Linked DNA regions of Homo sapiens: region 2 is linked to region 1. The links come from fine-mapping of genetic effects on gene expression. A gene starts in region 1. The other region holds a variant in brackets. All regions are shown on one strand. Distances are between the middles of the regions.

Region 1 (5,372 bases):
GAAAAGCAGTTGCTCTTCTGCTGGAAGGGAATGCCTGGAGGCTACTTGTTTTATTTCTTATTGGGAGGACGAGGATCATCATCCTACTTTGCATAGGAGGTTCAGCTCATTCTGTCCCTTAAAATGGGAAGATAAGAGCATTACCCCCTGCCACCCGAGGCCTCTTATGATATCCCCCATTCTGAGCCCAGAACACCCAGAACTTTGGAAATTGGCTATTGCCATGTCCAGACTGCGAGTATGGGAAGGGGAAACTTTTCTTTCTGTTGTCCCCACTACCACCCCTCACATCCGTGATTCTGAAACCCATGATAAATCCCCTTTGGACCATTTTCCTCTTTTTGATGCCAGTCCTCCTTTATGGGACTCTGATTGGCATTATGATAATTCTTCTGGACCCAGGTATGTCCCCCTACCTCTTCAGAATCCCCGGGCACCTCGGATTGCTTCTTTACGGCATCAAACATTGGGCGTTGCCACCGCCACTCCTCCCCCTCGGTATCAACGTAGATTCAAACATTCTGCTTTGTTTACCTCCAGCCTGACTATTATACAGAGTTGTGTTAAGCCTCCTTACATGCTGTTAGTGGGAAATATCAAAATTTGGATGAACAATCAAACCGTCCAATGCATTAATTGTCATTTATCCACTTGTGTTAACTCCCGTTTTGACTCAGGAAAAGTGTAATGTTGGTTCGAGCTTGAGAAGGAATCTGGATACCAGTAACTTTACCCAGAACTTGGGAATCTTCCCCCTCAGTACATTTAATTAATGAAGTGTTACAACGAATTCTCAAAAGATCAAGAGATTTGTTTTCACTTTAATCACTGTGATCATGGGCCTAATTACAGTCACTGCACTGGCCACCACTGCCGGAGTGGCATTACACCAATCTATTCAAATGGCTAATTTTGTTAATGATTGGTAAGGCAATTCCACCCAAATGTGGAATCCTCAACAAGGCATTGATCAAAAATTAGCTAATGATTTAAGACAGTCTGTTATTTGGCTTGGGGACCAGCTAATGAGTCTCGAACATCACATGCAAATGCAGTTCGATTGCAACACTTCTGATTTCTATAGCACACCATATTCCTACAACGAGACTGATCATGGGAAATGGTCAAAGGACACCTTCTGGGTAGGGAAGATAATTTATCCTTGGACATAACTAAATTAAAGAAACAAATTTTTGAAGCCTCTCAAGCTCATTTATCCATTGTGCCTGGAGCTGAGGCGTTAGATCAGGTGGCAGAAAGTCTTTCTGGACTAAACTCCACAACTTGGATTAAGTCTACTGGGGGCTCCACTGTAGGAAATTTTGGAATCATGTTTCTCTGTTTAATCGGCTTGTTTTTAGTGTGCCAGACCAGTCAAAGAATCCTGCATCAAAACCGAGAGAACGAGCAAGCCTTCATCGCCACGGCACATTTATATAAAAAGAAAGGGAGAGATGTTGCGGGAAGTCAGGGACCCTGAATGGAGGGACTGGCTGGAGCCATGGCAGAGGAACATAAATTGTGAAGATTTCATTTTAATATGGACATTTATCAGTTCCCAAATAATACTTTTATAATTTCTTATGCCTGTCTTTACTTTAATCTCTTAATCCTGTTATCTTTGTAAGCTGAGGATGTTTGTCACTTCAGGACCACTGTGATAATTGTGTTAACTGTACAAATTGATTGTAAGACATGTGTTTGAACAATATGAAATTAGTGCACCTTGAAAAAGAACAGAATAAGAGCAATTTTTAGGGAACAAGGGAAAACAACCATAAGGTCTGACTGCCTGCAGGGTCGGGCAGAAAGAGCCATATTTTCCTTCTTGAGAGAGGCTATAAATGGACATGCAAGTAGGGAAGATATCACTAAATTCTTTTCCTAGCAAGGAGTATTATTATTAATACCCTGGGAAAGGAATGCATTCCTGGGGGGAGGTCTATAAACAGCCGCTCTGGGAATGTCTATCTTGTGCAGTTGAGATAAGGACTGAGATACGCCCTGGTCTCCTGCAGTACCCTCAGGCTTACTAGGGTGGGGAAAAACTCCGCCCTGGTAAATTTGTGGTCAGACCGGTTCTCTGCTGTCGAACCCTGTTTGCTGTTGTTTAAGGTGTTTATCAAGACAGTATGTGCACCGCTGAACATAGACCCTCATCTGTAGTTCTGCTTTTGCCCTTTGCCTTGTGATCTTTGTTGGACCCTTATCAGTGGTTCTGCTTTTGCCCTTTGCCTTGTGATCTTTGTTGGACCCTTATCGGTAGTTCTGCTTTTGCCCTTTGTCCTTTCCCTCAGAAGCATGTGATCTTTGTTAGACACTTATTAGTAGTTCTGCTTTTCGCCCTTTGAAGCATGTGATCTTTGTACCTACTCCCTGTTCTTACACCCCCTCCCCTTTTTGAAACCCTTAATAAAAACTTGCTGGTTTGAGGCTCAGGTGGGTATCACAGTCCTACCGATATGTGATGCCACCCCCGGCGGCCCAGCTGTAAAATTCCTCTCTTTATACTGTCTCTCTTTATTTCTCAGCCGGCTGACACTTATAGAAAGAACCTACGTTGAAATATTGGGGGTGGGTTCCCCCAGTACGCTAGTCCTGCTGATGAGCAAAGAAGGTGTTGATGGCATTTTGATCAACAAGAAATGTTATGAAACGGCCTCCCACCTCTGGCATTCCTAGTACTGACCTATCTCTCCCTTCCCTTCCACCGCTCCCCACAGCTTAGCACCCCTTTCGTTCCCATACACATGTACATTTTTATTTTGGGGACCATTAACCCACAGCCCTTATCGCTGCCAAAACCACATGGGCTGGAGGGCCAGGGCTGCATGGACAGTCACACCACTGCACACCAGCCTGGTGATGGAGCAAGACTCTGAAAAAAAAAAAAAGAAGCATAAAAGACCTTTAACAGTCCCTGCTACTTGTGACCCTCCTGAATCTGTCATCTGTCCAGTGATTTTGATTTTGCAACATGGAAAGTTCCAAGCCTTGACTCCTGAGCCCAGATACCATTCGCACTCTGGAGTCATTCAAGCATGGGGAGCTCCTCAGAGGGTGATCAACTGACCTCCCTTACCTAGCTCCTCCTCCGGAGGTTTGCCCTGGAGTTGAGCCAGCCCTTGAGGAGGCCTTCACTCCCACCGCCTCTCTCCCTTCTGGATATGAGCTCAGGCCTGGCTGGGCTCCAGGAGAATCTTTCCACAAGGCAAGAGATAACACAAAGTCAAGGTGAAGATCAGGGTAGCCCTTTAAAAGGCCTCCTTGTGCCCTAGAGTTGCCACAGCTCTTCTACTCCACTGCTGTCTATCTTGCCTGCCGGCACCCAGCCACCATGTGGGAGCTCGTGGCTCTCTTGCTGCTTACCCTAGCTTATTTGTTTTGGCCCAAGAGAAGGTGCCCTGGTGCCAAGTACCCCAAGAGCCTCCTGTCCCTGCCCCTGGTGGGCAGCCTGCCATTCCTCCCCAGACACGGCCATATGCATAACAACTTCTTCAAGCTGCAGAAAAAATATGGCCCCATCTATTCGGTTCGTATGGGCACCAAGACTACAGTGATTGTCGGCCACCACCAGCTGGCCAAGGAGGTGCTTATTAAGAAGGGCAAGGACTTCTCTGGGCGGCCTCAAATGGTAAGTGGTGCCCATCTCCTCCCTGCCCCCTTCACCACCCCCTGGGATTGTTCAGGTCTTCAGACCATGCCTAGAATGGGGCTTCCAGCTCCAACAACCTGTAATTCTTCCCAAAGTAGACTAGTGGGATGATGTGAAGGGAGTGAACCTTCAGACCCCCACCCAGCCTCTAAATTAGGCAGGAAGAATTAAAGGAATGTCTCCTCTACCAGGCTGCCCAGGAGGTGGGATGGGAGGACCACAGTGGTCTGAGGGGTCAAGGAATCCTCACTCCACTCCTCTCTCTGAGCCTAGACTTCTCTAATGGACTGAGAAGGTGCATGTACAGCACTTAGCCTAGCACCCAGCACAGTAAGTGCCCCTTATACAGCCAGGATTCATGTTACTTTTCATGGAAAATGGGGGCAGTGACTACTGTCCTCCATGAAAGCTGCTGGGGAGAATTAGCCTAGCTATTGCAGGCTGGGATTGCTGCTTTCCTGGTGCTATTTCCAGCTACTCAGGCTCACAGGGGCAGTTTTCTACAATGACATTTCAGGGTTGCTGATGAGCCTCCCACTCAGCAGGGCCCCCAGCCTCTCAGCATTTTTTTTTTTTTTTTTTTTTTTTGAGACAGAGTCTCTCTCTGTCGCCCAGCCTGGAGTGCAGTGGCCAATCTCAGCTCACTGCAACCTCTGCCTCCCGGGTTCAAGTGATTCTCCTGCCTCAGCCTCCTGAGTACCTGGGACTACAGGAGCATGCCACCATGCCCGCTAATTTTTTGTATTTTTAGTAGAGATGGTGTTTCACCATGTTAGCCAGGATGGTCTCGATCTCCTGACCTCGTGATCCTCCCACCTTAGCCTCCCAAAGTGCTAGGATTATAGGCGTAAGCCACTGTGCCCTGCCAGCCTCTCAGCTTTGATCAAGCCAAGGGTTGGTTTATTTTTTCTTGGACCAATCAGCCAGGTCTGCTGACCAACTACCTAGCTCCCACCTCTGCTGGCTTCCTCCCGGGGGCAGAGAAGATGGAGAAGGCTAGTCATGTGGATCTTCAGGGTCAGGAAATGGAAAAGGGAGGCTTTGGACCCTTTTGCTTTGGGGGGCACCTCTAGGAGGAGGCGGCTCGGCCCAAGTCCAGACTGGGTAGACAAAACATCTGCACTCTCCAAATGTGGGCTTGTGGCTGGGTATGCAGGCTTGCAATGGAAGGGTAAACCTGAGTGAGGTGAGCTGTGCCTTTAGCTCAGCTAAGGGCTCAGGGAAAAGCAGAGATCTGTGCAGTCCTCAGCCTCTACAAGCTCACCTGCTCCCTACCCTCTGGACAGGCATAGTTTAGAGAGTTTATCCCATCCAGAGTTGCCTTCCTGTGGTCAGAAACTGATGAGCAAAAAGAAGCCCAGAGGGCACCCTGTCAGCGAAAAGAACCCCAATGCTGCTGCATTCTAATTAAGGGTTCTTTCTTTCTCCTTGATCTACTGTATTTCTGAAGGAATTGGGAGTAGGAGGCCTTAGGGTCTGTCCTACCAAGTCCTTGCAGTCATGGTGGAGTGCAGTGGGGCTGTGCCCACATGGGAGTCAGCATGCCAGGTACCTGCCTTCTCCTCCAGGAAGGAAAGCAGGGACCAGAGGTGTAAGGGCAAGAGTGGGGTGGATGGTGTGAGATTCCTACAGCCTTGCCTGCTCTCTAAAGGCAACTCTAGACATCGCGTCCAACAACCGTAAGGGTATCGCCTTCGCTGACTCTGGCGCACACTGG
Region 2 (5,372 bases), 370 kb before region 1:
GTAGGAGGGGCTATAAAGTAGAAAGTTGTCAAAATATTTAATAAGGTGAGAAGCAGATGGATGGAAAGAAAGTAAATCATGAGAAAGGACTTTACTGAAGTAATGGGGGCTGTCGGTGAAGCCTTGCAGCAGTACAGCCCGGGTAAGTTGCTGAGACTGATGGGTGTCAGGGTCAGTCTATGTGAAAGCGAAGAGAGGCTGGGATGAAGGGTGCAAAGAAATAGTAAAGAAAGCATGTTTGAGATGCAGAACAGAATAATGGGTTGTGGAGGGAGGTATTGAGGATAAGACAGTATATGGGTTTGGCACCACGGGGTGGATAGGCAAAACAATTTGGTTGATAAGGTGCAGATCCTGAAGTAACTTGTAAGACTTGTCCCGTTTTTGGACAGGTAAAATGTGGGAATTGTAAGAAGAGTTTATAGGTTTTAGAAGCCCATGCTGTAGCAGGTGAGTGATAACAGGCTTCAATCCCCTTAAAGCCTGTTGTGGGATAGGATACTGGCGTTCAGTGGGGTAAGGGTGATTAGATTTTAGTGGGATAGTAGTGGGTGTGTGATCGGTTGCCAGGGAGGGGGTAGAGGTGTCCCATACTTGTGGGTTAAGGTAGGGGGATACGAGGGGAAGACATGAAGGAGGCTTTGGGTTGGGAAGAAGGGTGACAATGAGATTTGGCTGTAGTCCAGGAAGAGTCAGGGAAGCAGATAATTTGGTTAAAATGTCTTGGCCTAATAAGGGAACTGGGGCCAGGCACGGTGGCTCACGCCTGTAATCCTAGCACTTTGGGAGGCCGAGGTGGGCGGATCACGAGGTCAGCAGATCGAGACCATCCTCACTAACACGGTGAAACCCCATCTCTACTAAAAATACAAAAAAAAAAAAAATTAGCTGGGCGTGGTGGTGGGCACCTGTAGTTCCAGCTACTCTGGAGGCTGAGGCAGGAGAATGGCATGAACTCAGGAGGCGGAGCTTGCAGTGAGCTGAGATCGCGCCACTGCACTCCAGCCTGGGCGACAGAGCAAGACTCCATCTCAAAAAATAAAAAATAAAAAAATTAAGGGAACTAGGCAGGTGGGGATAACTAAAAAAGAGTGCATAAAATAATGTTGTCCAAGTTGGCACCAGAGTGGGGGAGTTTCAAGGGGTTTTGAAGCTTGGCCGTCAATACCCACAACAGTTATGAGGGCAAGGGAAACAGGCCCTTGAAAAGAAGGTAATGTGGAGTGGGTAGCCCCTGTGTTGATTAAACAGGGGACGGACTTACCCTCCACTGTGAGAGTTACCCAAAGCTCAGCATCCATGATGGTCCAGGGGGCTTCCAAGGTGATCAGGCAGCGTCAGTCTTCAGCTGCCAAGCCAAGCAAATCTGGGAAGCAGTCAGTCAGAGAGCCTTGGGCCAGACCTTTAGGGGCTCTAGGAGTGGCTGCCGGGTGAGCTGGGCAGTCTGATTTCCAGTGGGTCCCTGCACAGATGGGACATGGCTTGGGAGGAATCCTGGGCTGCAGGCATTCCTTGGCCCAGTGGCCAGATTTCTGGCACTTGAAGCAACAGCCTGTTGGAGGAGGTCCTGTAGGAATGCTTGACTGCTGCGGCTTAGGCAGTTTGAAGTTCTTGTGTGCTGGAGGTGTGGCTGGGTTTTGTCTCACAGCAAAGGCAAGTAATTGTAACTCAGAAATGCGTTGCTGTCTGGCTGCCTCCTCTCTATTATTGTACACCTTGAAGGTGAGGTTGATTAATTCCTGTTGTGGGGTTTGAGGGCTGGATTCTAATTTTTGAAGCTTTTTTCTAATGTCAGGAGCTGACTGGGTGATAAAATGCCTATTTAGAATAAGACGGCCTTCTGACCCTTCAGGGTCTAGGGCTGTAAAGCATCTCAGGGTTGCTGCCAAACAAGCCAGGAACTGGGCTAGGTTTTTGTCTTTACCTTGGGTAGTTTCTTTAAGCTTGTCAAAATTAACAGCTTTGTAAACTGCCTTTGTAAGCCCATCAACTAGGCAGGAAATCATGTAATCTCGCCTAATTATACCTGGGGAATCTGCCTGATAGTTCCATTGGGGATCATCTTGGGGAACTGCTCTAATGCCTTCTTGGAGGTCTGGCTTGTGAAGCCGGTGGTTATCAGTGTGAGATTGGGCTAGAGAAAAAACTCTTTCCTGTTCATCTGGGGAAAGGGTAGATGTTAGGATGACATTTAAATCACTCCAGGTTAAATTGCAGGACAGAGTTAGATACTGGAATTCCTATATATAATTAGTGGGGTCTGATGAGAAAGAGCCTAAACACTGACTGATCTGAGAGAGGTCTGATAGAGAAAAAGGCACAAGTACCCTGACTATGCCTTCAGCTCCAGCCACCTCTCTAAGAGGAAATCGTTGGGCAGGTAGGGGAGAGCCAGTCATGGAACAAAACTGTAAGCTGGACTGGGTGTGAGGAGGGGAGGTGATAAAAGGATTATAGGGTGGAGGAGCAGAGGCTGAGGAAGATTTGGAGCCTGATTCAGCCTGGCAGAAAGCAACATAGGGAGCAGTCTGGGGAGGAGGGGAGAGGTCAGATGGCTTGGTAGAAAAGGAAGATTGGAAAGACTCAGCAATGCTTGGGGTTGGGACTGAGGGGACAGGCGGTAGGGAAAGAAGGAGGAT[T/C]TGGGACGAATTGCATTGGGAACAGAGACTAGGGAGGGAACGAAGTGTGAAAAAATGCCTGTATGTAAGGCATCTCAGGCCATTTACCAATTTTTCGACAAAAATTATCTAGGTCCTGTAGGATGGAGAAATTGAAAGTGCTGTTTTCTGGCCATTTAGAGCATTTATCAAGTTTGTATTGGGGCCAAGCAGTGTTGCAGAAGAAAATAAGGCATTTAGGTTTTAGGTCAGGTGTGAGCTGAAGAGGTTTTAAGTTCTTGAGAACACAGGCTAAGGGAGAAGAGGGAGGAATGGAGGGTGGAAGGTTGCCCATAGTGAAGGAGGCAAGCCCAGAGAAAAGAGAGAGTAGACACATGGAGAGAAGGGGTGGGAGGGTACTTGCCCCCCAGGGGAGGTGGTGCTTGCCACCCAGTGAAAGTGGTACTGGCCACCAAGGTGAAGGATCAAGGCCAGACATCCCCCTGGTGATCAGACACCTCTGAAACGTGGGTAAGCGTCCCCACAGTGATTAAACACCAAGAGAAGACTGTCTTCCTGAGTCCGTGACCAGAGCTGGAGTTTTGGGTTCACAGATAAAACGCATCTCCTCTGTCTCTACCAGAAAAGGAAAGGAACTGAAATTAAGAGAAGGGAGAGATTGAAGGGTGGTGCCAAAATCGAAAGGAGAAAGAGGTTGAAGGATAGTGAGAGAGGTTGGAGAAGAGAGTAAAAATAGGCCACTTACCTGATTTAAAATTGGTGAGATGTTCCTTGGGCTGGTTGGTCTGAGGACCCGAGGTCGTAGGTGAATCTTTCTCATGGAGCAAAGAGCAGGACAGGGTATTGATCGCCCAAGGGAGGTCCCCCAATCTGAGTCATGGCACCAAATGTCATGCATGTCCGTGTGAAGAGACCACCAAACAGGCTTTGTGTGAGCAACAAGGCTGTTTATTTCACCTGGGTGCAGAAGGGCTGAGTCCGAAAAAGGAGTCAGCAAGGAAGATAGGGGTGGGACAGTTTTATAGGATTTGGGTGGGTAGTGGAAAATTACAGTCAAAGGGGGTTTTTCTCTTGTGGGCAGGGGCGGGGGTCACAAAGTGCTCGGTGGGGGAGCTTCTGAGCCAGGAGAAGGAATTTCACAAGGTTAATTGCTCAGTTAAGGTGGGGCAGGAACAAATCACAATGGTTGAATGTCATCAGTTAAGGTAGGAACCAGCCATTTTCACTTCTTTTGTGACTCTTCACTTGCTTCAGGCCATCTGGATGTATACGTGCAAGTCACAGGGGATATGATGGCTTAGCTTGGGCTCAGAGGCCTGACACCTAGATCATGGTGGGCTTGGAAAACTGTCTGAGTTTCAGGGACTGCACCCTATTTATGCCAATGAAATACCAACATTGATGCCTAGCATCTGACATCTGAATTGGAGCCACAAAAGGTGCTGAAGAGACTAATACTCTGAAGGTGAGGTGACATAGGGATTTATAATCCCTGATCCTGCAATAGTGAGTTTCTTTAGGTCAATTGTATAGTTTCTGTAGTACTCAGAAGATTATTTTTCAAAGTGGCCCTTTGGGCTAGCAAACAAGAAAGAGACACATGAAGTCAATGTTGCCTGGGCAGCAGACAGCAGGGGGTGGCTCGGATTGGCTATTACCATGGCAACATTGATTGCTGTCACAAGCACCGGTGAGGCAGATAGTTAACATTTTCAGAGAACACAGGGACTACTTGCATCAGAATTACTTAGGAATTTGTTTAAATTTCGAATTCCTAGGACCCAAGGCCAGAGAGTCACGATTGGTAAGACTGAGATATGGTATGGAATCTGCCTTTTAGAAAACTCCCCAGGCAACCATACCTGATGAAATTTGAGAACCACTGATTAAAAAAATACAGTGCATCCCTGTTACAAATCCCTATATAAACCCATCTCACCAGAGCCATTTTCTTGCTTACAAGGCCTTACAATCTTTAAAAGATGCAGTAAATGTGCTGATCTAGGAATTTATACTGATAAATGCCCAAGTTTTTTGAGTGCTAAATGTTTAAGTAGGTCTTTCAAGTTTTCAGCAAGCATGGAACTTTTTTCTTTCTTTCTTTTTTTCTTTCCTTTCTTTTTTTTTTAAATTGAGACAGGTCTCACTCTGTCACCCAGACTGGAGTGCAGTGGCTTAATCATGGCTCACTGCAGCCTTGACCTCCTGGGCTCAAGCGATCCTCCCACTTTAGCCTCATGAGTGGCTGGGACTACAGCTACAAGCCATCACAGCCAGCTAACTGTTTTTTTTGGTTTTTTGTTTTTTTGGGTTTTTTTTGAGATGGAGTTTCACTCTGTCGCCAGGCTGGAGTGCAGTGGTGCGATCTCAGCTCACTTCAACCTCCACCTCCCGGGTTCAAGTGATTCTCTTGCTTCAGCCTCCCGAGTAGCTGGGACTACAGGCGTGTGCCACCATACCCAGCTAGTTTTTGTGTTTTTAGTAGAGATGGGGTTTCACAATGTTGGCCAGGATGGTCTTGATCTCCTGACCTCGTGATCAGCCCGCCTTAGCCTCCCAAAGTGCTAGGATTACAGGCATGAGCCACCATGCCCGGCTGCCAGCTAACTTTTTAAAAAAATTTTTTGTGGATATGTGGTCTACCTATGTTGCCCAGGCTGGTCTTGAACTTCTGGGCTCAAGCAATACTCCTGCCTCAGCCTTCCAAAGGGCTGGGTTTTCAGGTGTGAGCCACAGTGCCTGGCCTAGAACTTT

Evidence for each region. PIP is the estimated chance that this variant, and not a neighbour inherited with it, causes the effect.
Region 2: its variant is the best candidate, but not a certain one, in a credible set for the expression of CYP17A1 in lung (TOPMed, PIP 0.59).

What each region holds. Positions count from the first base shown.
Region 1 is chr10:102,835,327-102,840,698 of GRCh38, reverse strand. It overlaps CYP17A1 (cytochrome P450 family 17 subfamily A member 1), which reads left to right and starts at 3,286. Exons shown (of 8, transcript NM_000102.4): 1 at 3,286-3,634; 2 at 5,307-5,372. The coding sequence starts at 3,338. RefSeq lists a promoter at 3,047-3,326.
Region 2 is chr10:103,204,009-103,209,380 of GRCh38, reverse strand. No RefSeq gene overlaps it. Among named protein-coding and RNA genes, the nearest start is that of NT5C2, 13 kb to the right of the region's middle. RefSeq lists enhancers at 3,584-4,242, 4,243-4,902. The variant T/C (reference allele first, on the strand shown) is at 2,640.